Linked DNA regions of Homo sapiens. The protein of the gene in region 2 purifies or fractionates together with the protein of the main gene of each other region. This does not show direct contact. Each region holds a gene or a part of one and is shown on either strand. Other genes may lie near its edges. The genes, in order: DEPDC1, KDM3B, PPP4R1 and IDH3A.

What was found.
Region 1: the proteins of KDM3B (region 2) and DEPDC1 purify together in Homo sapiens (affinity purification with mass spectrometry; one large-scale study listed by BioGRID and IntAct). This does not show direct contact.
Region 3: the proteins of KDM3B (region 2) and PPP4R1 fractionate together in Homo sapiens (co-fractionation; one large-scale study listed by BioGRID). This does not show direct contact.
Region 4: the proteins of KDM3B (region 2) and IDH3A purify together in Homo sapiens (affinity purification with mass spectrometry; one large-scale study listed by BioGRID and IntAct). This does not show direct contact.

Annotation. Positions count from the first base shown.
Region 1 is NC_000001.11:68,478,374-68,486,029, forward strand, and holds part of DEPDC1 (DEP domain-containing protein 1A), read right to left. Parts: intron 5,718-7,656; coding exon 5,577-5,717; intron 5,332-5,576; exon of another isoform or gene 4,525-5,331; coding exon 3,673-4,524; intron 3,240-3,672; coding exon 3,067-3,239; intron 948-3,066; coding exon 771-947; exon of another isoform or gene 756-770; intron 1-755. UniProt on the Homo sapiens protein: May be involved in transcriptional regulation as a transcriptional corepressor.
Region 2 is NC_000005.10:138,389,199-138,396,854, reverse strand, and holds part of KDM3B (lysine-specific demethylase 3B), read right to left. Parts: intron 5,843-7,656; coding exon 4,594-5,842; intron 3,685-4,593; coding exon 3,483-3,684; intron 1-3,482. UniProt on the Homo sapiens protein: Histone demethylase that specifically demethylates 'Lys-9' of histone H3, thereby playing a central role in histone code. Demethylation of Lys residue generates formaldehyde and succinate. May have tumor suppressor activity.
Region 3 is NC_000018.10:9,549,950-9,557,605, forward strand, and holds part of PPP4R1 (serine/threonine-protein phosphatase 4 regulatory subunit 1), read right to left. Parts: intron 7,434-7,656; coding exon 7,272-7,433; intron 3,474-7,271; coding exon 3,373-3,473; intron 450-3,372; coding exon 329-449; intron 238-328; coding exon 103-237; intron 1-102. UniProt on the Homo sapiens protein: Regulatory subunit of serine/threonine-protein phosphatase 4. May play a role in regulation of cell division in renal glomeruli. The PPP4C-PPP4R1 PP4 complex may play a role in dephosphorylation and regulation of HDAC3.
Region 4 is NC_000015.10:78,151,849-78,159,504, forward strand, and holds part of IDH3A (isocitrate dehydrogenase [NAD] subunit alpha, mitochondrial precursor), read left to right. Parts: intron 1-3,364; coding exon 3,365-3,427; intron 3,428-5,059; exon of another isoform or gene 5,060-5,314; intron 5,315-5,699; coding exon 5,700-5,783; intron 5,784-7,656. UniProt on the Homo sapiens protein: Catalytic subunit of the enzyme which catalyzes the decarboxylation of isocitrate (ICT) into alpha-ketoglutarate.

The DNA.
Region 1 (7,656 bases), on a different chromosome or scaffold from region 2:
TTAATGTTCTGACAGTGCAGGTAGTAGATGATCAGCATATTTACTGAAATGAAATATTTTTAGTTTTCATGTATTTTTTTTTTTTTTGAGGCCTAGGGACATAGGCAGAGCTTCTAACATCTTCTGATAAGAGAAAGAAATTCTAGGAGATAGTTATAATTATAAGCCAGGGCAATATTAGAATGGTATGTATGGGAAAAACATAAACATGTGTTGGGCAGCCAAAGACAGAATACAGTAGATGTCTGTTATTTTGGCTGCTCAGTATTCCTTCTCTCCTTCTTTTAATAGTTCCTTCCCATTTTACCCCTCTACCTTCACCTTTTGTGAAGAATAAATTCTCCTTTGTGTAGAACCAATCAGAGTAAGGCCCTATCTCCATCCTACTCACTCTTAACAACCTAAACGATGCATATTTAACCTCAACTATGCTAAGAGTCTACATCCAGAGCTTTTAAATTGGAGACGGAGGAATGGCTCTTTTTCCTTTGAATTGCAAATGTAAGGCTCTAACTCATGAACTTCAACTAGCCACATTCCTCATCATGTGAAGGAGCCATTGTCAAACACAGGATCAACACAGAAATAAGAGATGGAGGGATGGAAAGAGTCATATAGCTATTTGAGTCCCAGATTCTGTCTACATTCCTGACTTTTAGAGGTTGTTTATGGGAGCTGATAAAGTCTCCCTTTTTGATTAAGCTATTTTGAGATGAGTTTGCCACTTGCAACTGACTATTGCAGAGAATTTTAAGACTCACAATACTTACATGTCCCTTTTTTAAGTAGTCAAGATGTTTTTCCACTGCAGTCTGTAAGTAAGAGGGTACTTGAAGAATTTCCTGATGATGATCCATTAAGAAAGAAACTAATCTTCCAGCAAGAAGCTCATCAAGATCCACTTCTTCAGCACAGCATAACACACATCGAGAAAAGGTATGTATCATCTAGAAAAATATTAAAAGATGTGAATTTAAAAAGCTAAGGTTGCATACAAACTAGAATATCGGTAATTTCCAGGTAGCATTATGTGAAGTATTGGGAAAAAGTGGTAAGCAGCCCTCAGTTTAAAAATGAGGACAACGATTTATACAGTTAGAAATGTAAGAATTTGATTATACATAAATCCTTTTTAAAGTTTTTCCATGGCTGAGCATGGTGGTTCATGCCTGTAATCTAAGCACTTTGGGAGGCTGAGGTGAGAGGCTCACTTGAGGCAAGGAGTTCGAAGCCAGCCTAGGCAACATAGTGAAACCCTATACCTATGAAGAAATAAAAAACTAGCCAGGCATGATGGTGCATGACTGTGGTTCCAGCTACTTGGGAGAGTGAGGCAGAAGGATTTTTTGAGCCCAGGAATTCCAGGGTGCAGTGAGCTATGATCACACCACTGTACTCTAGCCTGGGAAACAGAGCGTGATCCTGTGTAACCAGAAAAAAAAAAAAAAAGTATATCCTTAATGTAATTCCCAAGAATTATAAAAGGCTTTGGTTTTTCTACAATTTTGTCACAATTTTATCAGTAAACACCATAGGTTCTATTAATACCACATATATATGTTGCTTAAGCTTAAAGATTGTCAGAGAACAATAACTAATTACATTAAATGAATCCCACAGAAAAACACAAACCAGGAGAATGTGTAACATATAGAACACTTCTATTCATAAGTGGTTGCAAAGCTGATGCCATTTAGCTTTTGAAATGCTGGAAAATAGTTTTTAAAAATGTTTATTCTGTCAGTCTTTAGACAGCAATTTAAAACACACATTTTTCAATTCCATCTTATGGGATCTTCAAATCCTGGGATAAAATTGATTACTCTCACTTATTACTCTCGTTACTTTCACTTATATCTATGCAACCCTCTAACTGTACCACACACACACACACACACACACACACACACCCCTCATTCTAAAATACTTAGAAATCAGAATTGTTTTAAATATTTCACACATAGTAGATGATCAGAATATTTATAGAATTGATACATTTTTAGTTTTATTCCTACACATCACTCGGGGTTTCCTGTCTCCTTCCATGGCTCAGACCTCAGCCTTTTGCTCTTTCTTCACACTCTTAGCCTTGTAGAGCTCATCTACTCTCATAGCTTCAAGTACTATCCCTATGTAAATGACCAAATCAATTTGCATTCTCCCCTGATCTTTCTTCACCTGGCTCATATTTCCAACATTCTGTTGGACAAATTTCAATTTCTCTTGGAGGTCCTATGACTTCAAATCTTAAAAGTGCAAAACCAAAATTATCACCTTCCCAGTCATGTCTCTGAAAACATCTTCCTCTATAAACTTCCTAGCTTTTTAATAGTGCTATAATTACTCAAGAATAATTCTTCTTCTTTATATTAGGTCTGTCATTGTTAAAGAACTATCTTTAATAACGCGTGGAAGAAAGCATAACTCCGGATTCCTTGCTATAAGAACCTCTTGTAAATTGAAGTTGCATTTTGAGGAAGTGGTGACTTAAAAAAAAAGAAAGAGATTAAAGATACTATTTCAAGAGTTCATTTCCAATCAATTGTCTGCATATAAATGCCCTTATCCTCATTTTCACAAGGAGCCTAAGGCTGTTTGGCAATAGTGCTTCCCAACTTCTTGTCCACGATGACCTACTTTTCCATTACTATATTCTCTGAAACACTGACTTACTGTATTAAGTTCCATTAGTTCTCTGCGTCCACAGTTATAGTCTCCTTAGGCTTTCAACAGTACCTACATTTCTTCTTCCTTATCCACCAAACAGAATTGGCACAAGGCAACATAACGTGGTCTGACTGGTCAATCACTATGAAGTGATTCAGGATGAATGAGCAGGCAAAGTCCTTAGCCAGGATTAACATCAGCATGTGAAAGTATAACAGAGTGTGCACAAAAGATTAATACACCAAAATTCTGCTGCTAGGAAAGGTTAAAGAGCCTTTCCAACCTAAGAATCTAGCACTTTAAGACTAAGACATCACTTGAGTAGTACTTTTACGTAGTTTGGTTTTGTTATTTTGGTTTATGAATCAGACTTATTCTTTCTATAAGAAATCAACTTACCAGTGACCTCGTACCCATTGCATCATGAAGTTTGGGCATATCAACATTTTGACTCATTCGGGAAATCATACGCATTAAAAGTTGAAGCTTTCTACGATTTGGTGGGGGAAGTAACAAACAACATAACTGTAGAGCATCGATGGCAACCCTCTCTAAATGAGGTTGCAGCAAGCCTAGAATACAAAAATACCCCCCCAAAAATCATCAATGACACTAGTTGCTTTCATACTACCAGTATATACAGCTATATAAAGAAGGTAAAATAATATCTTAGTATTTCATCTTTTAACTATTTCTAGAAATTACGTTCCTCTAAAGCATGGTAAGATTCTCATTATTTTCTTTACAACTTATTTCTAAGTATTAAAATTCTTCACTTATTACAAATAAAGTGACTCAGAATAAATGAAATTGCAAAAAAGAAAATAAGTTCCTTAGGTAAACAGAATAAATCTTGGTTATGTCACAGACAAAAGTCTTTTTAAATAATTCCTCTTGGAGGAAAAAAAATTAAGCAACTTCAAGGAAGAAAAGCCAGGTAAGCAAAACACAGAGTTAGTAAACACTCAAAGTTAATATTGCATGCATTGAAAGCAACAGCCTTACTTTGTGTGCCAGTCAACATAGAAGAAGCTGGAAGTAAAGAATTTTCTGAAAGTTCTATTGTACTTTTGCAGAGTCTTTTATTGATTGTGGCACTAGACTCTCCGAGTTCACTTTCCATAGCTGTTTGCACACTTGTGCTGCCTTGTCCAACATTTGGTTTCATGATAATTTCAGCCACTGGTGTATTGATATAACTATTCCTTCTTGTACTACTTCTTAAAAGCAAACTCTGAGACCTACAAAGCTGTTTTGACTTGCATTTCCCATTACACAACTCCTCTTGGTCTTGAACAGTCAAAGTAGAGGTTCTCTTAAAACCAGCACTGAATGGCTTTTGAATATTTTCCTCTGAATGAAGATTCAACAGGAATTCCTGTTTGGGCTTAGACTCTAAAAACAGTTTATTATTTTGTCCTTCTATGTTCGGAAAAGATTGATGAAAGACACTGGATGCCTCTTTACTTGAATTCCCTGGCACATCTACAATTCCTTCCAAAGAACAGCACCTTGGTTTGCTGTTAGAGGATAGATCATGCATATTACTTAACCCTATTAAATTATGACAACTTCCTCCCATTATGTCATTAGCACTCACTCTTCTGTTTCTTAAATTAACTAGCTGCATTTTCTTAGCACATCTTTCTTGAAATCCTGGATTGCTTATCTGTAGTCTCTCAGTAGAATCTGATTCTTCTTTGTTTTTTTCTCTATGAAGCAGACTGAGAAGAAGGCACTCAGTTGATTTGAAGGAATTCAAATTGTTTAAGTGAAGGAATTTTGAAGACTGTGGATCATCTTGAATTTTATGTATCCCACTGGATCTATCTGAAACTGTGATGTAGCCACAAACAACTACCAGGAAATGAAACAAAAATTAAGATGCAACTGTATGACAGTGGACAAAAATAAAACAAAAACAATAGTAAAGTTAAAAAATAAAGCATTACTATAGTATATATTGTTAGTATAGTATACACAGTAGTTGCTTAATTCAGAAGCCACTTAAATAGGACACATGCAACATTCGGTTACAAACGTGCAAGACAGATGAGTGGTTTTCCCATTTGTAATATAACTTTAAAAAATTATTTCAACAGCCTAATTAAATGGATTGAGCCAGAATACATTTAAAAAATCTGTTCTCAGTCTGCAAGTACTAGAAACCTCATAAATATAAGATAATTGTGGTATAATAAAATACATATATTTGATCTTTGTCCTTGGTACCTGGTATGGAGCTCCTAAAATCCTTGAAATTTCCTGAATGATAGAAGTCTTTAGTTACTCATAACAAGCCTATTTCAGCGTATCTGAGTTCATGCTAAGGTAACTGAGGGCCGGCCATGGTTTGAATTTTCATCACCAACTACAACCTTGTGGGAGGAGAAAGGGGCTAGAGATTGAGTTCAATTGACAACAGTGACCAATGATTTGGTCAGTCATGCCTTGGTAATTAAACTTCAATTAAAACTCTAAAACATGCAGGCTGAGGGAGTTTTCTAGGTTAGTGAACACATGGATGTGCTGGGATCACGGCATGACCAGAAAGGGTAGAGAAACTCTGTGCCACCCCCACCCTCATACCGTGCTCTGTGTAACTCTTCCATTTGGCTATTCTTGAGGTCTAGCTTTTATAATAAACTAATAGTCATAGTTAAAGTGCTTTTCTGAGTTCTGTGAATCATTGTAGTGAATTATTGAGTCTGGTAGGGGGTTGAGGGAAGTCCCGAATTGGTAGTTGGCTGGGCGGAAGTATGAGTAACCTCGGAACCTTATTTCACTGAATTTTAAAATAATTTGTAGGCTGCCACCTTTATATTTACCTATGGTTTTAGATCTTCTAAATTATAAGAAAGTTGAAAACTTTAACAAAATGAACTAAAATCAGTAAAATCTATACATACCCAAAATGTTTACAAATAATTCGTAATATTCAAAAGTAAGTAGAGGTTCAGGGAGATCTAGAAAATAATCTGCGATTGTTCTGAATACATCTCGTTCAAATCCAACATAAGTTGGATTATTCATATCATTGCTTCTTGGCCCTAAGAAGTAGAAGGCAAGAGAAAAAGGTAAAGTATATTTTAATTTAAATACAATTTTTAAACATAAAAAGTATAAAATCTGTATTTCATGAAGGAGCTAGGTTTAACAACAAATTCTGCCACAGTTCAAAAATTTAAAGGGTGTATTTCATTCTTCCTCATTATCTTTCCACTGGAAGCAGTCAATTGCTAGTATTTTGTTTAACATTTGTATACCTGAAAAATCATACATAAAGCAAAATTTTAATATCATTTTAAAAGCATTAGGGAAGCTTAGTTTAATAAGATTTTATTGTAATTCATTTTGTAAAGGAAAGAATATTTGGACAACACAAATAATTCCTTCAAATTGTCTTTTTGTAAATTTACATGTTCATGAATATATTTTGTCTGACATGAAGCATAGCCTTAATGAATTTAAATAATATCTTTACATTGTTGTTTCTTAAGCTTGACACAACTATTGAAATAATCATACCTACTCATTTGTGTTTTCCTCAAAAATAAGATCTGATCTCATTTTATAGATAAGAAAACTGAGGCTGAGAGTACCTTGCCCAAGATGAAAAAGACTCTGGTAGCAAAGTTTGAATTAGAAGTTAGAGCAGTGTAAAATAAGCACAAGGCCCAGGACTTTTAAAGCTACAACAACATTTAAAGTGTGGTTCATAGATTATATCACAGAATCATCCAATGTGCCTATTAAAAATACAAAGTCCTCTATGGAGACCATAATCCATGAAGGCGGGGCCAGAAATTTACTGACCTAGAAATGTTTGCTTCTGGTTCACTGAGTGTTTTCCAAACACTAACCTGAGAATCTTCACTATAGTAATCTTCTGGAGGCATATATATATATATATATTTTTTAAAGATTCCTGACCTACAGAATCTCTGGAGAGTCTCTTTAGTGACTGTGGTATGCATCTAGGTTTTAGAGCCATTATACTATCTTTCAAGTTAAAATGTTTCTCTTCCCAAGTCCAAATAATATTTCTTACTTCTCTGTTTCCAAACTTTTGTATGGACACACAAATGTGAGCACACACTGAAAAAGAATTAAAGAAAACAATTCACACACACACACACACACACACACACTCTTAACAACAGAGCAAAATAGATATTTTTCTAAGGACATAAGAAATAGTATGTGGAATAAAAGATTTGATAATCATTAGAAAGTTCTCTAAGACAGAAAATACATGTTTACAGGAATTAAAAATATTAAAAATATAGAATTTATAGAGAATCTAGGTTTGAGCTCTAGCTCATTTGCACTAAAAGAAGATACTCTAAGCTTTGGCTTTCTCTGTTGGAAAAATTGGGATGGTATACTGATTACTAATTCCTACATCTCACAGAATTACTCTGGGGGATCGAATAACAAGTAAAGTAAGTCTTAACACTGCCTCTGGCTAAATACATTGTTGCTAATTTGGAATCCAGTAAGTTATATAATTGGTATCGTTTAGGTATTACATAGACTGAAACGAGAAGGAAGACAGAATCCCTGAAGACCAGATGTCAGAGAAATCCCTGTCAGTATGCCTATCTGAATTCCTAACCATGAGCAAAGGAATGAAAGAGAGGAATAGCTAACTATACCTGGAAAGTAGAAAGACAAATTCAAGTCTTAAGTTCATAATAAAGATTTTAATCTTAATTTGATAAAATGTTTCTGTAAATATATTTAATTTATTGCTATTTATTCAATGTCATTTTATCATATTGACACCCAGTGGACAACAAAGGAATATAAAGTTACCCTGAACATTAATAAAACCCTATTAGCATTTAGAAAATGCTAATTTTGTATGAACTAGAAAATTATACTTGTAACTATTAAAACATAATTTAGCTTTTGATGATTTAGCTTATATCTTTGTACATTTAAAAAATTAACTTTGAAAGCAATTAGGATTTTGTACTCATACTA
Region 2 (7,656 bases):
TTGCCTGACAGTCACAATACAGTTTCTTGGTACATTCCCTCTTCTAGATGCCTATTTTCATACCTTCCTTCTATTCATACCTCCAATATTACTTCCCCTGTGAGGACCTTGTTTTCTATTCCACTGAGAAAAGAGGAGCCAGAAAACAACCTCCACAAGCTCCCACCACGACACTACCACACTTCCCTGCAACTTGGCCCACGTATTCCATGAGTTCCCGCTGCTCTGAACCAGCAAAGGCCAGTATCTCCTACTACATCCTATCACTTTTCCCCAACCCAAAGGCATTTCTCCACTAAATCTCTCCTCTCTTTTCAACATCATCTATTTTCTTCTGTATCAGATCACTGCTGCCAGCACATAAATTTGCTCCAATTTCTACCACAAAAATCCTCTCAAGCCATACCCTCCCTCCATTTATCTGCTTGAGCAAAGTTCCTCTAAAGAGTTGTCTATACTTGGCCGGGCGCAGTGGCTCACGCCTGTAATCCCAGCACTTTGGGAGGCTGAGGCGGGCGGATCACGAGGTCAGGAGATCAAGACCATCCTGGCTAACACGGTGAAACCCTGTCTCTACTAAAAATATAAAAAATTAGCTGGGTGTGGTGGCGGGCACCTGTAGTCCCAGCTACTCGGGAGGCTGAGGCAGGAGAATGGCGTGAACCCGGGAGGCGGAGATTGCAGTGAGCCAAGATTGCGCCACTGCACTCCAGCCTGGGCAGCAAGACTCCATCTAAAAAAAAAGAAGAGTTGTCTATACTCATTGCCATAGGTTCCTTTCCCTTTTATTTTCTTCCCTACAATCAGGCAATTCCCCTACCAATCTAGCAAAACTATTTTGATAAGGTAATTCTACCTTGCTAAATCAGTCACTTCTAGTCCATATGTAACATGACCTGTCAGCAACATTTTTACTTTTTTATTAAAAATTGATTTGTGCAGGGTGCAGTGGCTCACACCCATAAGCCCTGCACTTTGGGAGGCTGAGGCAAGCGGATCACCTCAGGTTAGGAGTTCAAGACCAGCCTGGCCAATGTGGTGAAACCCTGTCTCTACCAAAAATACAAAAAATTAGCCGAGCATGGTGGCGCGCACCTATAATCCCAGCTACTCAGGAGACTGAGGCAGGAGAATCGCTTGAACCCAGGAGATGGAGGTTGCAGTGAGCCAAGACCACGCCATTGCACTCCAGCCTGGGCAACAGGGCAAGACTCCGTCTCAAAAAAAAAAATTATTATTATTACTATTATTTTTTGTAGAGACAGGGTCTCACTACATCGTTCAGGGTGGTCTCAAACTGCTGGCCTCAAGTGATCCTTCAACCTTAGCCTCCCAAGATCCTGGGATTACAAGCGTGAGCTACCGCCCCCATTCAAGTCAGCAACATTTGACACAGTTCATTATTCCTTCCTGGAAATACTTTCTTTAGTTGTCTTCTGGGATACCTCACTGCCTAGTTTTCCTGCTACTTCACTAGCTGTTCTTTCTCAGTCTCCTTTACTAGTTGCTTCCATCTTTCTCACCTCTAAACATTGGAGAGTACCAGAGTTTGGTCCCTGGACTGCTATTCTTCTTTATCTATGCTCTGATCTCACTTAGACTGACAGCTTTAAATACCTGGTGATATCCAAATTTATATCTCCAGGTAGGACCCCTTCCCTTAACTCTAGAGCTGTATCCCCAGCTGCCTTCTCAGTATTTTCCTTTGAAAATCTAACAAGCATCTCAAATTTAACACGGCCAAGTTAAAACTCCCCCTTTTCCTCCCCAAACCTGCTTTTCCCTAAAGAATCTCTTTATCAGTAAATGGCAATCTCATTCTTCCTGTTTTTAGGCCAAAAGACATATCTAGAACCAGACATAGAATCATCCTTAAGTCCTTTCTTTCATACTTCACATCTAATTCATCAGAAAATTATGTCTACTCTATCTTCAACTACTTCTCATCATGTCCATCACTATCTCCGTGGTCCAAGCCCCATCATTTCTCACTTGGATAATTCCAACAGCCTCCTAACTTCTCTGCTTCTGCCCTTGCCTCTACATAGCTTATTCTCAAAAAGGTGGCCAAAGTGGCCTTTTAAAACATTAATCAGTGTCACGCATCAGCTCAAGGCCTCCAATGACTTCTCATCAGAGTAAAAACCAAGGCCTTTGGAATAGCCCTTTAAAATGTGGACCCATCATTAACTCATTCACCTCAACTCCTTTTCCTTCTTTGTTTATTCTATTTTAGCAACCTAACTTTATGGACACACCAGAAATACTCCAGCTTTGGGATGCTTGCACCTGTCTGGAATACCTGTCACAGTGTGGTGTATTCTTTCACCTCCTGCAGGCTGTTCCTCAACTCTCACTTTCTCAGATCATCCTGTTTAAAACTGTAGCCTCTCTAGCATCCTCACACTTCAATCCTCTTTCCTTATTTTTCTCATAGTTATTATCAGCTGACATATCACTTATTATTTTTTCTTTTTCTTTTAGAGAGAGCCTCGCTTTGCTTCTAAGGCTGGAGTGCAGTGGTACGATCAAGGCTCAATGCAGCTTTGACCTCCTGGGCTCAAGTGATCCTCCCACCTCAGCCTCCTGAGTAGCTGGAATTACAGGTGTGTGCCACCACACTCGGCTAATTTTTAAAATTTTCTGTAGAGACTAGGTCTCACTATGTTGCCCATGCTGGTCTCAAGTGATCCTTCTGCTTCGGCCTCCCAAAGTGCTGGAGTTAAAGGCATGTAATCATGCTTGGCCTTTTTTCCTTATTTACTGTCTGCCTCCCCAAACCTTCTGAGGGCTGAAATTTGATTTTTTTGTTGTTCACTGCTGAATATTCAATGGCCAGAACAAGGGTTGGCACACATTAAATGCTCAATAAACATTTGCTAAGTGAATCCACACCATATTGGTAAACCATTTGGATTTACTTTAAAAATTAAAGATTCTTGAAAGGTCACTCAGAAGAAACTCCCCTTCTAAGTTTATCAAGCAGAAGAAAAGTAACTAAAGAGATATTGTTTGGTAAAAGCAGACGATATTCCCACATTTCCATCAGTTATATCTATTTCAAAGATGCTTCACATTATCTCCAAATCTTACCTCCCCGTCTTTTTAACATGACTCAAGTTACTCTAGCACTGAGGAGGAATAAGCAGTCAGGTAGATCCATAATATGAAATGCAGTCCTTCTGCTTATAATAGTGGTTTCAAATAGAACCAACCCAAGTTAGGAATTACTCAGGGAATAGCACAGAGCTGCAGCTAACACTGCTCAATTTTAATTCTCCAAGGACAAAATCACATGTCATTTTACAATCCAAACAACTAAGTGACTACTATGCCAGAGCCTCTTCACAGACGCTGAGAGCAAAGGAGTTGAGGAAAGCAAAGACCAAGATGATGAAACATGTTTATAGACTCAGAGAAAGAGTGGAAGTTATGTGTCACTAATGAAAACTAGCAAAGGAGGAAAACAGGAGTTTGGGTACCTCCGGAAGTGAAAGAAACGGCAGGCTACAGTAGAATCATCTTGCTCCTGTTCCTTAAACTTCCGGTACCGCTCCAGGCGGCATTCACGACACTTGTGCAGATGAGGTGCCACATTGATGCATGACCCATCCTGCAGGAAGGGCTCTCCAGATTGCTTCAGCTTCTTCACTTTGCTTACATCTTTCAGCACTGACTGGCCAACTGTGGCAAGGGGGAGAGAAGAAAAGTTTGTCATGAGGTGTAAACAGGAACCAATAGCATGATTCTTTTGGGGACAGACATTTGTTCTGACCTGGGTTGCTACTCCTTTCCCTGCTTGGGCATGTACCCATTATGTCCATCCTTGACAGGAAGGGAAAGCAAGGAGCAAAGAAGCTTCCATTGGGAGCTAAGAACCATGCAGAACTTGTGGGAAGTGCCCCACTATGGCAAAACAACTTTGAATATGGATGTGAAAAACATAAGAAGCCAGAATGTAGCCATCACCTGCCTCTAGTCTCTCACGATATGGCTATTCTGTTCATCAGGACCTCTTGAGCTCCCACAACATAGCAATTCCTATTGAGAACAGCTGCTTTTACCATGAGACTTTGTTTTACCCGCTTCTGGACCATAACCTCACACCACACAAGTTAATGGATTTTGATAGAGCTGTTAAAATCCTTATGTAGGTTTCAGAGAGGAGCAAACTGAGGGGTGATTCTCTCTGCTTCATCAAGTCTACAAATGTCTGCTATGTGGGAATGGATACCAGTTCCCAGTAACCCCTCTGAAGTAAAGAGGATGGGCCAAAGTGAAGTAAAAAGGGATGAGACAAATGCAAAGAAATAGTTCCTGACCAAAAATAACTGACCGCCAAGGAAGATCAAGAGTCCTCCTTTGGGGGATTATCATTATTTGGGACAGATACTCCTCCTACAGTGCCGGTTTAGATGCAATCCTGCCCTGAACCAGGCCTGACGAGGGGCCTCTGCCAGGTCCTCTTGGCTCTGTAATTCTATGAGATTACAGAACTCTCCATCAAAGTGAGTGCCTCTGCTGCACAAGAACACGACAGGCATTTGAGCCCAGTGCCAGAGCAAAGCCCAAATATAGCCCCAGCAGGATCACCTTTCAGGGGGGCAGTCCGAGGCCGGCCCTTGGGGGCCTGCTTCCCTTTGCTTTTGCCCAGCAACAGCTCAGCACTGCGCTCCCCATTGGGGCCCAGCTTCCCCATCAGGTGCTCTGGAATTCCCTTCAGGCCTGTCTTAGCCTGCAGCTGCTCCTCAGAGTCACTCAAATCTGACAGGTCACTGTTGGTGCTGGAGTCCGAGTCTTGTCTGCAAGCCAAGCTTCGTTCATCCAGTGAGAACCTTTTCACAGCTTCAAAAGGAGCTTTGTTCTCCTGTGAAAAATCTGCCGGGGAGGACAGAAAGCCGCCTGAGTGCCTGCCAAAGACGTTACTAAAGGTTTTGAGGAGGGGATTGTCCTGCTGCCCAGGCCCCACAGTTGGCCTCTCCTCTGTGGGGCTAGAGGAGAGAGTTGGCATCTCAATGGGCTGAGTGAGGCTGCTGGTGGGCGAGCTGGAGCGGCCATTCCCCATGGCAGAGAGGCTTGGGCCCCCACTGGTAAGAGCTGAGCCCAGAACACCAGATACTAGCTTGGAGGAGTCAGTTGTAATGAAGAGGGGTTTCTTCTTTGCTAAAGATGCCGAATCTGCAGAGGAGTGAGACTCGGGCCAGCTGGGTGCCACCTTGGAGGTGACAGTGGTAGCAGAAGAGGAGCTACCTGATGCCTGAGATGCAAAACTACTGAAAGGGCTGTGTTCAACTTTCTCCACAAATGCCAGGAAAGGATTAGAAGGCTCTTCTCGGGACAATTTGGGGGGCTGTAAAAATAGATTTTCATGATTCTCTGGGGTACGGGCATTTAGGAGGCTCCGTGGGAAGGCTGGAGTGAGGGTGGGCATGGACTCTGCAGGCACTTTCCGGTCCACAGAGCTGCCAGCCTTAGAGCCTGGCTTAGTGTCTGTTCCAAGAACGGATCTGCCTTTACACAGGCCTGAGCTCAGGCTCTCAAGGCTTTGTTTGAATGAGTCCCGACTAGAAGAATCATCAGCCAAACTCTCTGAAACAGTAGTGAAGTAGTTACTGGTAGGTAAAGTTTGGGACATGCATTGAAAAAACAAGTTTTTGGAGAGATCAGTGTCTTTCTGTGCCTCTTGTGCAGAGCTACAGCCAAAAGAGAAGCCCAAAGGTTTGTTCTCTGTGGCTAGAACACCATTGGACTGGCTCCTTCCACTTCCAAAAGTCAAAGGTTGCGATGAACTAGGGAGAGGTGCTCCAAATCCAGAAGAGGCCAGAATAGAATTTCTTGAATTCTGAAAGGAAGATAGCCTGAATTAGTGATGCTGGCTTCTCATGACAATCTAATGATCTCTTTCTTGGACCTCACTATCACCAGATCAACATTTCTTGGGGGTCCATCAACTTTTCTCTTTTACAATTCCATGGATCTGCTCTTGTAACTGGAGTTCACCAGCAGTGGGGAAGAAATCTGCCACAGACTACACTGAGGGCATCTTTAGCAAGGTGAACCAGAGATAGCAGGATGTCATTCATCCTGCAATTCCCTTGGTTGTTATCCAATTGGTCGTCACAGTGCTAGAAGGCCTTGTAGGCTTTTTGGTATCTATTTGGAAGTGAAGAGCTCCTCTAAGGAACTGGAGAAAAGGGTTCCTGAATAGACATCAGCTTTTACAGTGACCCCTGTAATATTAATATATCTCAATGACCTTGGGAGCTATTGTTAAAGTTTTGATTTATTTAGGCTACTGTAAAATTGCCCATTTTACAAAAAGTGGCTTTAATCCTAGGACAAGCCTACTGCACGTTAAAGAAAAGTGTTTTCCTTATTAATCTGAAAGTCCACAACATGGACCCTTTTGGATTTCGGCATCTATTTATGGGTTCAAGTCAACCTACAAGTTGAATATCTACTTCAATTAACGTTAGACGTAAAGATGCTAAATTAAAGAAAGCAAGCTATTTACCAAGACCTTTGTTATAATTAGAATCTAATAAGAATCCAAAGAGGATAAATGTATATACTGACAATATCCCAAAAAAAGCCTTCAGCATAACTGAAGAATGAAATAACAGAACACTCCCCTTTCCTTCTTTTACCTTCAAAATGTTAACTTCTGCTTGTGAATGACTGTATAAAGAAGAATGGGGCCTGGCGCGGTGGCTCATGCCTGTAATCCCAGTACTTTGGGAGGCTGACATGGGCGGATCACGAGGTCTGGAGGTCAAGACCATCCTGGCCAACACGGTGAAACCCTGTCTCTACTAAAAATACAAAAAATGAGCCGGGCATGGTGGCACGTGCCTGTAGTCCCAGCTACTCGGAAGGCTGAGGCAGGAGAATTGCTTGAACCCAGGAGGCGGAGGTTGCAGTGAGCCCAGATCGTGCCACTGCACTCCAGCCTGGCAACAGAGCAAGATTCCCTCACAAAAACAAAAAAAAGGAAGGACTTTCCTATATATTAATGTACCCAGATACAGACAAGAGAAAGGGACACACACACACACACACACACACACACACAGAGAGAGAGAGAGAGAGAGAAGAGACCCATAGGTAGGTATGAGCCCAAACTTATATTTATTAATTTAATAAAACCCAGATCCTAGTACTTGACTTGCTAACCATAGATTACTTTCAAGTAGTAGAGGATGATATACCTTAATATTCACTCTAAAACACTGGAAATAAAAATTATTCCATCACCACTTAATGGATATGGAGTTTTCCTTTTGGGGTGATGAAATTTCTGGATCTAGATAGTCTTCATAGTTTCGCAACACTGTAAATGTACTAAATGCCACAGAATTGTACATTTTAAAGTCGTAAGTTTTACATTATGTGTATTTTACTACAATTAAAAAAAAAGTGATTCCCGATAAACAAAAGGGCTATTCTCTTATAAAGAGGGGAGAGAGTTTTAATTAAACTATTCTTTAAATACACAAGAGGAGTTAACATTCAGGATTTCCTTGAGGAGTAGCATAGAGACGTACGAATCAAGCAGGCCACCTAGGCTTGCCTCTGTCTCTGCTACAGAGACTACTTCAGGGTATTTTAGAGTTAAAAAATAAAACTCCTTTTCTTTTTTCTTTTATCTTCCTACTA
Region 3 (7,656 bases), on a different chromosome or scaffold from region 2:
TCCTTAAGAGTAAGGAAGAGGGTGAGAGAGAGGTAGGAAGTTAAAGAAGACATTCTTCTAGGAGAAAAACTCACAAACAGGTAAGCCCAGGGCCTCGCTTACCTGGCAGACAAAGACAAAGGCTTGCCGACCAGACCACTTGGGACATCTGCCAAAGTTCTCCACAAGCTCATTGATGAGGTCCACTCCGAACGTTGGTGGTGTTGCCGCGTGCAGCTTCTTCACCATCTCGCTGACCTGGGAGGGTGAGCATGGAGAAATGAGGAACAGCTTCCATTCTAGGATCTTAGAGTTTGCTGATCTAAAATTTTAAAAGTTCAATACATACCAACTTGTAGGAAATCCAACGAACAGAAGAAACTTTGTCTGCACACAGATTCAGAGCAATGGGACGTAAATAGTCATAAACATCTCTGGGACTATATAACTCTAGAAGTAAAATCAGCTGTCTACAAAAAGGAATTACAAAAAGACAATGTTTAAAAATCAGCGAGACAAATGAAAATAGGTTACCCATTTAAATCATCTGTAATACTGGATTACTGAGCACCTGTCTCAAACATACGCAAAGAGGAGTGATTAAGCAGACCTCTCCTGTACAGTTACCTCCAGTCTCTGTGTATCTGGAAATGCACTTACATGCTATTCAAGTTCCTTAGAGTGTAAGGAAAACAAAAGCTGTAGAGTTCTGCATCCATGGGGACTGAGACAGAGCAAAGCACTTCCTAGTATGTTCAACTGGAACATGGCCCACACTGATCCATGGTCACAGTTTGGAATGTGCTGAGAAGCTTCCATCTACAATCAAGTTTCTCAGTAAGAAGTCCCCGCAGAGGGAGGGAGTCCACTGTGTACCTGTCGAGGCTCTGAGGAGCCTTCCTGGAAGGGATTTGCTAGGGATAACAGAGGGAGGGTGTCCTCCAGCAACCTTCCCATCACATCTGAGGGGCCCTGAGACTTTCATGACATCTACCAAGCTAACCTGAAAGCTTCAATGATGGCCTTGAAGAAATACCTTGGATGTGAGACTTTTGCCTTTCAGATTTTATGTTCAAGAGGATTTACATTTCTAATAAGCAGAAAGTCAACTGTAACATGAATATAGATTATGCAGCAATGATAAATGCACCTGTGTATACAAATATGCATCCTCAAAGAGACACACTTATTTTCTGACAAAATTCAAAATAAAAATTCCAAATAGGACCAGTTTCTGCTTAGAATACAGAAAACTGCAAAGAACGTCACTGACCCTACAGTAGAAAAAGCTACATAAACTTCAAGATCTTTTCTTGAGCCCATCAGAGAGCTGGGGTTGCAAAGCACACAAACAACCTAACTTCCCAAGATGGGAAAGAGAACTGCCCCTCAGCAGAGCCCGGATGGACAGGACACCTGCTAGCACCTAACAGGGCAGGGAGAAATCAGCTCGAATTGCAGTCAGCTGCCCAGGGCCAGATGGTGGCTGGCAGGAGCATGGGGTGGCTCAAACAAAGCCAGATGTGCCCGACACAGGGAGCTCACATTCCCAGACAACCTTCTGACTTCCACAGGGTACCTGCCTCCCATGGGTGCTTCAAGAAAGATGGTCAGGAAAAACAGGAGAGATGTCTCATAGCAGGCAGAAGCAACTGACTGACAGCCATGAATCATCAAGCACTCTGCTGGGCCCTTTTCTCGTGCAAAGCAAAAGGCTTAACCTGCTGGTGGAGGGGCCCCAAAGCCTGTCCACCCTGTGGGCCCAGCAAAAATACTGCAACTGTGGGAGAGGAGAACTAATGCTCCTTATTCCAGGAGGAGCTGTAGGAAGTCCTGCCCGAGACCAAGCACAGATAGGAGGTCCCACCCATTACGCAGGGGTGCAGGTACCGCTAAACGCCGGGTGGAATACTCACACTAGAAGACCACTGGTACCCCAGCTGCCACCCTCAGCAAACGACAATGGTAGTGGCAGCCCACAGCGAGAAAAACTGAAGCCCCAAGTACACTGAACGTAACCACAGCAATCACAAAACGCAAACCCAGCTTGACCCTGACTAGATGGACTCACACCCCGGCACTATATGGCAGAAGAGGAGGCGTGTGTTTTGAGTCAGAAGTGGGCAAGCCAGAACTCAATGGAGTGGCATCTTTAATATACTGAAAGACAAACTGTCAGCCCCACATTCCATACTCAGCAAAGACATCATTTGAAAATGCAGGTGAGGTCTATAATCCAGAATATATAAAGAACTCTTACAACTCAACAACACAACTTAAGATAATCCAATTTAAAAATGTGCAACAGACTTGGATAGACATTTCTCCACAAAATATACACAAATGGTTGACAGGCTTATGGAAAAGTGTTCAACATCATTAGTCATTAGGGAAATGCAAATCATACCACAATGAAGTGCTGTTCCAAGCCCATCAGAACAGCTGTAAATGATAAGCGAGTGATGGATATGCTAACTGCCCTTATCTGACCACTATCCGATACGTATTGCAACATCATTACATACCTCACAAATATGCACAATTATTATTTGGCCAATTTAGAAATATTTTTAAAATTTAGTAGAAAAATAGGTGTTAGTGAGGAGACAGAGAAACTGGAACTCCCATACATTGCTGATGGGAATGTAAAATGGTATAGCTGTTGTGGAAAAGTTTTGGCAGTTCCTCAAGAAATTAAACACAGAATTACCATATGGCCTTGCAAATTCACCTCAAAAGAACTGAAAACAGATTTCAAATATTAAATCTTGTACATAAACGTTCCTAGCAGCACTATTCACAAAAGACCACACCCCCAACCCAAATGTTCCTCAACAGATGAATGCCCTAAACGAATGTGGTATATCCATACAATGGAATATTACTCAACCACAAAAAGGAAGGCAGGTTCAGCTAGAGGATACAATATGGAGGACAACTGAAAACATTGTTAAATGAAGAAACCAAGCACAAAAGGCCATGTGTTATATGACTCCACTTGCATGAAATGTCCGCAACAGGCAAATCCATAGATAGTAGATGCTTATTGGGCATGGGTTTTTCTTTTCGGGAGGTTAACATTTCAGAACTAGATAGAGGGAATGGTTCCACAACACTGTGAATGGACTAAATGTCATCAACAGCAAATTTGGCTATGTGTATTTCACCATGATAAAAATAATATAAAGATGAACTAAAGACATTTTCAAGAAAAAATAAAAAAGCTGAGGAAATTCACTGACAGTAAGACACATATTACAGGAAGCGTTAAAGGGCTAGAATACCACATAGAAACTTGGATCTACACAAAGTAATGAAGAAACTGAGAAAATGTAAAAATGAAGTAAATATATACCCCTCCAAAACATAATCTAATAAACTGTTAGAACTTACTCAGCCAGTTCAGCTCGAAACCGCCAATTTCTACTATTATCTGTCACCAAAAACTCCTGAAGTTGATAAAGATATTCTCTTCTTTTGTCAATATGAAGAAGCTAAAGTAACAAAATAAAAATATTTACCAGGACAAGGTACAGACAGTATTTCTTTTACTAGAGTGCTTAAAAACAGACTGTAAGCAATATGGTTAATTCTTCTGAAGAGGAAATGTAGTAGCTGTATTTAAGTGTTTTAAAATTTGGTATTAAGTTTATTTTTCCCTGAATAATTCCATTTGCCTTCAGGAATCACCATCTTGTCTGGAAATCTTTGTTCCTTGTGCCTATCAATGAGCCACGCTAAACCCCACAGTACCCCGGGCACAGCCTGATTACAGGGCTTGCCCCCTTTATTCATATGACATCCTTGTTGCCATGGCCCCGCTTAAGGCAGTAATTATGCTCTTAACCACGTGTGTAAGCCCTGCGTGTGACGCTGTGACAGCACAGAGTAGGCATTCAGTATTTGTTGAGAGAAAAAAAATAAATGTATCCCAATAGCTGCTCTATAAATATTTAAAGGTAAGTTTATAAACGGAAGCAAACCAACCTAACTGTGCATCAGATGGAAAACAATCACACAGGGAAAAAAGCCAAAGTGTGAACTGACTACTTTGACCATACATCTTCAAGGGACGTTCTAAGGACAGAATGTGCTAGGAAGTCCTGAATATTATGTAGTTGATTTGATGTGGGAATTATTATTGGTGGAGTAATTCTGAAACTATTTCATTTATGTTGTGGAACTCAGCAAACAACTAATTTTTTTTTTTTTTTTTTGAGACAGTGTCTCACTCTGTGGTCCAGGCTGGAGTGCAGTGGCGGGATCTCGGCTCACTGCAACCTCCACCTCCCAGGTTCAAGCGATTCTCCTGCCTCAGCCTCCCGAGTAGCTGGGACTACAGGCGCATGCCACCACGCCCGGCTAATTTTTTGTATCTTTAGTAGAGACGGGGATTCACCGTGTTAGCCAGGATGGTCTCGATCTCCTGACCTCAGGTGATCCGCTCGCCTTGGCCTCCCAAAGTGCTGGGATTACAGGTGTGAGCCACTGTGCCCAGCCACAACTAAATATTACACATTAATGTTACTAAGAACAGACTTTTTACCAGGAGTAAAAAGAAAAAAATATATAAAGTGAAGAGAGAAAACGGTATTGAATTGGAAGCAGTTCATAACAATATGAAGTTAGTAATTTAATTAAAAAAAAAAGCATCACACCTCCTAGCTACTATCTACACCTCCTAGCTACTATCTCCTGAAAAGACCTAAAAGAAATGACAGGCCAGGAGCAATGAGCACTTCCAGTGCCTGGATCTCAGTTTCTAAGGACCATTCTCCACTAAAAAGGACCACAGTTCCTTGGAGAAATAGCTGACTCCAGGCTGGGACAGGGAAAGGGAAAGTTGAAACTGAAAGTATTGATGCACTTAAAAATCAAAGGACAAATCAAAGGACACAAGAGGCAGCTTTAAGGGGTCTCCACTAGTCAAATTTGATGCTCAAAACAAATGACAGAAATGGATTCCATTATGTTGAATTTTTAAAATCCTAGAGTCCCCACTAATACTAAAATAACTTTCGAAACCGGGGAAGGAGAGAAGGCACAGGTTATTTTTACATGGGAATGTTACTTAATAAAAACAGAAGGAATGGCCCAGCATAGTGGCTCACATCTGTAATCCCAGAACTTTGGGAGGCTAAGGCGGGGCAGATCACTTGAGCCCAGGAGTTCAAGACCAGTGTGGGCAACATAGTGAAACCCTATCCCTACAAAAAATACAAAACTCAGTTGGGCGTGGTGGTGCGCCTGTGGCCCCAGCTACTCAGGAGGCAGAAGTGGGAGGATCATCTGAGCTGGGAGAGGTGGAGGCTGCAGTGAGCCATGATTGCATCATTACACTCCAGCCTGGGCAACAGAGTGAGACCCTGTCTCAAAATAAGTAAGTTAATTAATTAAAAAAAAACAGAAAGAATTATGAAAATAGAAAATCACTCTTTCACAACCAACACAGTTAACTGATTCAGGTAAGAACCATGTATAGATGCCTGGATATGAGAGCACTGGTGAAGGACTCTAGAGAAAAAGATATTCAGAGTTCTAAAGTATCACCTCACCAATTCTCTATTAACCACAAAAGGTAAAAGGTCATTTTACAATGGAGTTGTCAGCCTTCTCGTCACCAATGATGGGAAGAGCCAACACCACATTAGCCCTGATGTGGCACATTCAGAAAAATACATGACAACCTACACAGGTTAACATGTCTGCAAAAAAACCCCGCTTACTCAGAATCAAATTGTGTAAATTCAAATTGAGGGTAATTCTGTAAAACAACTGGTTTAGACTCCTCAAAAATGCCAGTGACACCTAGATTTAAGAGGACTAAAGAAAGATAACATTTAAATTTAATATGCACTTTAAGGGATTCAAAATTGAGCGGAGAAAAACTATAAAGGACAATACTGGGACAATCAGAAAAATTTTAGGCCAGGCATGGTGGCTCACGCCTGTAATCCCAGCACTTTGGGAGGCCAAGGTGGGCGGATCACAAGATCAGGAGATCAAGACCATCCTGGCCAACACGGTGAAACCCCATCTCTACTAAAACAAACAAACAAACAAACAAACAAAAAAACACAAAATCGGCCGGGCTTAGTGGCACGCACCTGTAGTCCCAGCTACTCAGGAGGCTGAGGCAGGAGAATTGCTTGAACCTGGGAGGCGGAGGTTGCAGTGAGCCAAGATCCTGCCACTGCACTCCAGCCTTGTGACAGAGCGAGACTCCGAATATGATCTACATAAAATATAAAATGGTCTCAATGTTTTTGTTTTTTACTTTTTTGAGATGGAGTCTTGCTCTGTCCCCCAGCTGGAGTGCAGTGGCATGATCTTGGCTCACTGCAACCTCCACCTCCTGGGCTCAAGCGATTCTCCTGCCTCAGTCTCCTGAGTGGCTGAGACTACAGGTGCCTACCACCACGCCCAGCTAATTTTTTGTATTTTAGTAAAGACAAGGTTTCACCATGTTGGCCAGGCTGGTCTCAACCTCCTGACCTCAAGTGATCTGCCCGCCTCAGCCTCCCAAAGTGCTGGGATTACAGGCGTGAGCCACTGTGCCCAGCCTCAGTGTTTTTTAAAAGGGAGGACTACAATTACTTCTATCACTCAAGCCTTAGAATTACCAGAGTCAATTTCAAGGCTAAAGTCTAAAAACAACAACAGTACTCCAGGAGTAAACAATTTGTAAAAAATCAGGGCTATTCACTTTGGAGACCACAGCTCCTCTATCAAAGTAGTGAGGGCTAAACGTAAATTCTCAAGACGCCTGAAATACCACACAAAGCCTCCAAACTTAATACACAGTTGACTTTCAACAACAGGGGTTTGAACTGCATGGGTCCACTTATACTTGAATTGTTTGTCCCAACCAGATTGAAAATACAGTATTCCCGGATGTGAAACTGGAGTACACGGAGGGCAGACTTTTCCTATACGCAGGTTCCACAGGAGTACTCCATGGATTTGGGTGTGCATGGGGGACCTGGAACCAATCCTCCTGCATGTACTGAGGGATGACTGCAGCTAATGATTTTTTTTAACATACATTTCACTCAATAATTTTGAAAAAGAAAAAGATACAAATGTCTGTAAACTATCATCTAATACTGTTTTAAAAGTGAGAGTATAATTATGGGACCATTTCTTTTTTAAGTTGCATCTTAACATCAACTTATGGCTGTGTTTTCTTACATAGAAACACAAAGAAACCTCTCTTGGTGATAGCAGAAGATAAAGATTTAGATTACGGCAGAATTTTGTTGTGTTTTTATGCAAAAAAATTTAAAAGTTACCTTCAGAAAATCATGCAAGTGTTTAAGAACACCTATCCTGACTTCATCGAGGTCTTTTAAAAATCCATTAAAAATTGGAACCAGATCTGCAGCTGTCAATTGATCTCCAAGAATAACTGCAAGCTCGTGGATGGAGAATGCTAGAGTTCGTCGAACTTTCCACTGCAGAAATGAAAACACATTAGTAAGCTAACCACAAAGTACGCAGTACTTTAACCATTAGGCAATATACAAAGGCTAATTTATATATGAATGTTACTAACCTCAAAAAATTAAATCAGAATAACAGATACTAACTTTAAATGCCTAAATTATGCATCGAAAAGTGTAACAGAAACATTTTAAATCCCTGCCTAGTACGTATTATCTTCCTTTCATTTATGAG
Region 4 (7,656 bases), on a different chromosome or scaffold from region 2:
CTCAGCCTTCCATGAAGCTGGGACTACTGGTGTGTGCCACCATACCTGGCTAACATTTAAAATTTTTTTTGTAGAGGTAGGGTCTCACTCTGTTGTCTAGGCTGATTGGTCAGGTCTTCTGTCACAGAGACATAAGCTAGTTTTGTGTGAATGTCTTTTCCCTCTTTTTTGGGCTGGGAGAGGAGAAAGGACTCATGTCAATTTTTTTTTTTTTTTTTTTTTTTTTTGAGACAGAGTTTTGCTCCTGTTGCCCAGGCTGGAGTGGAATGGTGAGATCTTGGCTCACTGCAACCTCCACCTCCTGGGTTCAAGCGATTCTCCTGCCTGAGCCTCCCAAGTAGCTGGGATTACAGGCACCCACCATCACACCCAGCTGATTTTTGTATTTTTATTAGAGACAGGGTTTCACCATGTTGGCCAGGCTGGTCTTGAACCCTGACCTCAGGTGATCCACCGGCCTCAGCCTCCCAAAGTGCTGGGATTACAAGCGTGAGGCACTGCGCCCGGCCTTTTTTTTTTTTTTTTTTTTGAGATGGAGTTTTGCTCTTGTCACCCAGGCTAGAGTGCAATGGCGCGATCTTGGCTCACCGCAACCTCTGCCTCCTGGGTTCAAGTGATTCTCCTCCCTCAGCCTCCTGAATAGCTGGGATTACAGGCATGTGCCACCACGCCTGGCTAATTTTGTATTTTTAGTAGAGACAGGGTTTCTCCATGTTAGTCAGGCTGGTCTTGAACTCCTGACCTCAGGTGATTTGCCTGCCTCAGCCTCCCAAAGTGCTGGGATTACAGGCGTGAGCCACCGCATCCGGCCTCATGTCACTTTTATGCTCTGCTTGTCACGAAGTAACCTTTAAATGGTGCTTTGGAAAATTTTATTTTACTTAAAGTTCTGGGTCATTGTGATGACTTAGGTGCAGTACTGCTTTATTCTAAGATCATGCAAGAGAGATGACAAACATGGAAAAGACTGGTCCTTAAAGAAGATCATTGCAAGTATTAAGGCTACTTGTTGGCTTGGAAACTCTTCAGATAGAGATGTGACTGAGGCTGGACTCAGTTTTGTTTGATTGTTGTTTTGTTTTTTTTTAAATTATTGAATACCTTCTATGAGCCAGGGACTGTTCTAGACACTAGATACAACAGTGAACAAAACACAAATCCTTACACTCCTGGGTTTACATTGCTGCCCCCAGCATATGCAGGTAGGATGGGTTTACATTTTAAAATCAGTTGTTTGAGTCGGGTCTTTTTCATTCTTTCTTTCTTTTTTTCTTTTTTTTGTCCATTACCTAGGCTGGAGTGCAGTGGCATAATCATAGCTCACAGAAGCCTCAAGCTCCTGGGCTCAAGCAGTCCTGAGCTCAAGCCGACTTAGCCTCCCATGTAGCTGAGACCATTGGTGTGCACCACCATACCTGGCTAATTTTGTAGAGACAGGGTCTCACTTTGTTGCACAGCCTGGTTGGTTGGGTCTTCTGTCACAAGGACATGAGTTTTGTGTGAATGTCTTTTCCTTCTTTTTTGTTCAGGGAGAGGAGAAAGGACACATGTCAATTTTCTTGTCACAAAGTAGCCTTTAAATGGCCTCCCTTCCAATAGCCCACTCGCTGGTGGATGAATCATGCCCTAGGATTAACATTTTGGCCAATGGTTTTGGCATTCTTTTGGATTTGGCCCAGTCTTATTTTCAATGCAGAGTCATGACTATAGATACCAGAAGATTAGAGAATAAAATTCATTCATACCTTTCTTGGCTGTTGGTTGTTACCAATAAATATTTCAGCAAAGGTTCAGACCCCAGAAAAAAACATCAAGATAGGATATAACAAATGTGTCTTTGCTCATGTATCTAGCAGGAGAAAAAGTTACTTTTTAAAAAATTTAATGCAGCCGGGTGTGGTGGCTCATGCCTGTAATCCCAGCACTTTGGGTGTCCAAGGCAGGTGGATCACCTGAGGTCAGGAGTTTGAGACCAGCCGGGCCAACATGGAGAAACCCTGTCTCTACTAAAAATACAACAAGATTAGCCGGGCATGGTGGTGCATCCCTGTAATCCCAGCTACTTTCAGGAGGCTGAGGCAAACCCAGGAGGTGGTGGTTGCAGTGAGCCGAGATTGCACCATTGCACTCCAGCCTGGGCAACAAGAGTGAAACTCTGTCTCAAAAAAAAAAAAATTTAATGCATTTTAATACCTTTGGTCTATGTACCCAGTTTCTTTTTTTATATTGTTTATAATAATGTAGTATGACTTTGTACCAGTTCTCAAGGACTAAGTTATTAAAGTTTATAATAAACCTTTAAAATTTATATTTCTGGCATATGATGTTAATTGGAGAGAGAAAAAAAAAAAAAAACACGTACCAGTGGTAATATCTTGGTGTGGTGGGATTACTGGGTAACTTTTATTTTATATTTTGTATCTTTTCCTAGTCCCAGCAAACTGACAGTAATGACCACATTACCTATATTATCAGAAGAAGCAGTAATTTATTTAAAATCTTTATTCTGTATGGCATGGGCATCAGATGGTATTAAATAAACTTTCTTAGATTTTACTATAAAGTGTAATTTCTTAATATTCACAGAATAGATATAATGTATAATTGAAGGAGCACTGGACCAGGAGTCAGAAGACCTGTATGTGGGTTTCCATTTTGCCAATTATTCGCTGTGTGACCTTAGGCAAATGCTTTTCTTTGGGACCAGCATCTCCGCTTATGAAATAAGCAAGTTGCCAGGTGTCGTGGTGCACACCTGTAATCCCACCTACTCAGGAGGCTGAGGCAAGAGGGTCACTTGAGCCCAGGAGTTGGAGACTGCAGTGAGTTATGATTGTGCCTTTGAATAGTCACTGCACTCCATCCTGGGCAACCTAGGGAGACCCCATCTCAAAAAGCCTAAAACAACAACAAGAAATAAGTGAGTTGTGCTCTGGATTTCATGAGGAACATCCTGGCTCTAAAATTAATGGTAATTTTCTTAGAATATATGTTACCCCTAAATTGACCGAATGGTCAAGAATGTTGGCACAAAATGATCCACTCATCTGAGAAGAATCTGTATGTTGAGCTGAAAAAGTAGTTTTATTCTACCTTCAACATCTTTTATTTGACAACTTATATTCGTTAAATTGACTTTGAAAATATACAGTACTCAATCTAAAGTAAAAATCTGAGTATTTAGGCTTTCAAATCTGAGATAGCTTGCCACATTGAGCTAATACATGAGATTTGTATTCCTGGGAAGCTACTGAATATATCTGTGCCAAGTTGCAGCATTACCATCCATCAGGACTTCCTCGCTCTTGTTTACTGTATGTGGTTTAATTCTGTGTGTGATATTTCTCTGTTGATATTAATATAGGTCTCTCGGCTGCTGGGGGCATTCCACAACCCAAAACAGGTGACCAGAGGTTTTACTGGTGGTGTGAGTATAATTATGTCTTTTATTTTTTCCTTTTAGAAGTTTCTCAAGAAAGATGCTCTAACATATTTATTATATAGCATTTTATCTCCATTCATTTAGAATTTGGGAAAATTGGCCATATTTATAATGTATGTTGAAATTACTGGCTGACATGCACAAATCTGTTAGGTTACTTGCGCATTTGAAAGAATTATCTTACAGCTGGCTATGTAAGTTTGTCACATTAATATCTTGAGGGAGCCTTGTTAAAAATAGAAAGTACCCTTGAGCCTGTTATTTTATTTCACAATCTCATTTTGGTGAGACAGCTTTTTTCAAAACTAGTACAAGTTGAGAGAAAATTGTTGAGAAGCTTCAAAACCTGCTTTGCATTTTTATTTTATGGGCTTCCCTAAACCCAGTAGATTGAGTGCCAATTAGGAATGCCTCGAACATCTATAAGCCTTGTAGGCTTATACTTGCCTTATATAGGCTTTGTAGACTATCACAGTAGTAGATCATCTATTGTTCATTAAATCTGCTGCTTTTAGAATTCCCAGCATCAGAATTCTGTGCTTTAAAAGCTGATACCACATTTTTGGAACATTCTAAGACTGTGGGTCAGTGACTTCCTATTTGTTTTGATCCCCGCCCCGCCTTTTATGGAATCTGATTTGGATTTCATAATTCCTATACTCCCATATAACATCTATGCCGTGAAAGATTTATAAGACCATAGTACATTTTTTCCTCCATTTACTTTCTGTATTGTGGAAGAAAAGCAGATTTTCTGGTGACTGGATGACATTTATTATTACATGTTGGGAGAACAGGAAGAAGTAGCCAAAGCGTTCTTTTGGCTCTGCTTATGCCAAAAATGCAGGATGGGGCTTGCACTTCAAGCTCAAGGATAGCCATGCTAGCATTTCAAACGCATTCTGAAAGCTAATAAGATGATCATTGCTCTCTGCTATTATTTAATTTTCAGGCTATTTATTTGAAAAAAAAATTAGCTTGATGGAGGAGGTTATTTTTGAAGAAATAAGAGGATGTATTAATTTTTTTAAAGACTTCTTCAACCCGAGAAAACTGGTATGAGCCTTAGCCCTGGCTAAGACTGAGGTGGGAGATTTGCTTAAGGCCAGGAGTTCGAGGCTGCAGTGAGCTGTGATCACACCTGTGAGTAGCCACTGTGCTCCTGCCTGGCAATGTAGTGAGTCCTCATCTCTAAAAAATAAAAATTGAAAATTAGAAAAATGAAAAAAATAAAAATGTTTCTTCAGTTGTACAGAAACTAATCAGAAATAATTAGTCCACGTATCTGGGCAGACATCATTGGAAGGCAAAGGACCAAGGAAACTTGAATTAGTGACTTTTTAAAAATGCAGTTCAAGCAACTAGAACTGAAAAAAAGCCAAGCCCCTAGGTGGGGTAAAGTCCCAAGATAATAAAATATGTGGTTCCCAAATGGAAAAAGAGGTGCTGATCTTCTCCCTTACATATTTTTATTTCTGCATTTGAAATGCTGGCTTCGTTTTGCCTGAAGCCTTAGAATAAATCATTGCTGTTACATTATAAAAACAATAATTGTCATTCTAAGTGTGACTCAGGCTTTGCAGGTATGATGACATATACTATTCTTTTTGGTTGCAGATCAACTTTGCCAAGCTTATGTAGATTACTCTTAGATTTAAGCAGACAGTTTTATAGAGGAACTAAGAAAAAAATGGAAGCTCTCTTGATAAAAAGTCTGATTTTCCCTGAGTACCAAAACAGACCTCAGTAATATTTTGGAAATGTGTCTGAAAATGTTTTGCAAGACTGAAGAAGTTGCATGAGAAGCTTTCCAGGATCACAATGGAAAGGAAAGGAAAACACTTGCCTTCATGAGAAACCGTCTAAATTTTAGTGAGAGAACATTGTTAATTTTTTGTTGTTGTTGTCTTTGGTTTAAAAGATTTGAATTAATTGGTCTCTTTGCAGCTTGTCTGAAAAGAAATATCAATTAGGAAATCTACTTGGTAGTTTAATTTATTTTCGTTTTATGTAAAGAGTATCATTTGGTTCTTTTTAAAACCTCTGAACTCAGGTAAAGAGTAGGATTGCAGAGTCTCTCCTCTGTTGATTCCTGCCTCCCCTTTGATGACCCCCGGGGAGGTATGTTTGTTTTCTTAACAGCATTTGAATCTTCCTGAGACATCTCATAAAGTGGATTTCTCTGTCAAAATATTCTTTTTTAAGCCTTCAAAAACAAAAATTCTTACTGTCTTCTTTGATGATTTCTTATGTTCAGGTTCAGACAGTAACTTTAATTCCAGGAGATGGTATTGGCCCAGAAATTTCAGCTGCAGTTATGAAGATTTTTGATGCTGCCAAAGTAAGTGGGCTTAAAAAATACATTTAATGATGACTCACTGAAAAGTTTTCTTAGCCAGTTGGATTCTGTGAACTTTTAGGATGCATTGTACCCATTTCTATGAAATTTAGTCAGGTCTGTTGTTAATCTCCACCGATTGTCACTTTAACAGTGTGTGTCTCAGTGTTTGCTACTGCCATTATTTCTTTCTTTCTTTTTTTTTTTTTTTTAAATTTAGAGATGAGGTCTCGCTCTATTCCCAGGCTGGTCTTGAACTCTGGGGCTCAAGCGATCCTCCCACCTTCACCTCCCAAAGTGCTTGGATTATAGGCGTGAGCCACCGCACCTGGCTGGCTGCTCCTGTTGTTGATAGTTTAAACTCCTGCATTGGCATCAGTTATATGTAAAGTAATCAAAGTAGTACTGCAGTATTTGTGGATCTTTAAGTCCTGCTTGGGTTTAAGATCTTTTAAGCCCTGCCAAATCACCCACCTTTTTGCAAAAAATAAAATAAAATAAGACTAGAATTGCTGTTTCCAAAATCTATACAGGCGCTTTTGAAATAATCTCTTTAAAATAAAATTTCTGATGTGTTATCAAGAATGGAATGTTATTACTTCTAACAGCTGAGCCTTTGATACAGGTAGATAATTTAAAAATTCTGTAAGTGGATTCAGCTGTAAGCTGCTTGTGAACAGCACCGTGTCTGTCTGAGCTCGTGTCCTAGGACATGTTCAGTGTGCTAGCTGTATACACATGAAGGATGTAGGTAGAGAGAAAGGGATGCTTGTTTATACCTCCAACTGGTACATTCATAGGTTATGCAATACATACATACATATATATATATATATTTTTTTTTTTTTTTTTTTTTTTTTTTTTTGAGACAGAGTTTTGCTCTTGTTGCCCAGGCTGAAGTGCGATGGAGCAATCTCGGCTCACTGCAACCTCTGCCTCCCGGGTTCAAGCGATTCTCCTGTCTCAGCCTCCCAAGTAGCTGGGATTACAGGCACATGCCACCACGCCTGGCTAATTTTTTTATTTTTAGTAGAGACAGGGTTTCATCATATTGGTCAGGCTGGTCTCGAACTCCTGACCTCAGGTGATCTGCCCACCTTGGCCTCTGCACCGGGCCTGGCCTATATATATATTTTAAACAATGTAATATTGTTTTTTAAAAACAGCTTTATGGAGATATCATTCATCCTTTATTTTTTATTTTTATGTTTCATTTGTTTTGAGACATTGTTTCGCTCTTGTTGCACAGGCTGGAGTGCAATGGCATGATCTTGGCTCACTGCAACCTCCGTCTCCCAGGTTCAAGCTATTCTTCTGCCTCAGCTTCCCGAGCAGCTGGGATTACAGGTGCCTGCCACCACGCCCAGCTGATTTTTGTATTTTTAGTAGAGGCGGGGTTTCACCATGTTGGCTAGGCTGGGCTGGAACTCCTGACCTCAGGTGATCCACCCACCTTGGCTTCCCAAAGTGCAGGGATTACAGGCGTGAGCCACCACACTGGGCCTAATTCATCCTTTTAAAATGTACCTTTCAATCCAGTGGTTTTTAGTACATTCACAGAGTTATGCAACCATCACCACAATCTAATTTTGGACCATTTTCCTCACCGAAAAAGAAACCCCATACCCTATGCAGTCGCTCCCCATTTCGTCTCTCTCCCTCCCTACCCCCTCCTCCTTTTTCTTCCCCCACCCTAGGCAGCCAACCACTCATCTACTTTCTGTATCTGTAGATTTGCCTATTTGGGACATTTCATATAAATAGAATCTTATAATATATGGTCTTTTATGATTGGCTTCTTTCACTTAGCATGATGTTTTTAAGTTTCATCCATGTATCAGTACTATATGATGTTTCTGTGAACCATATTCCTCTG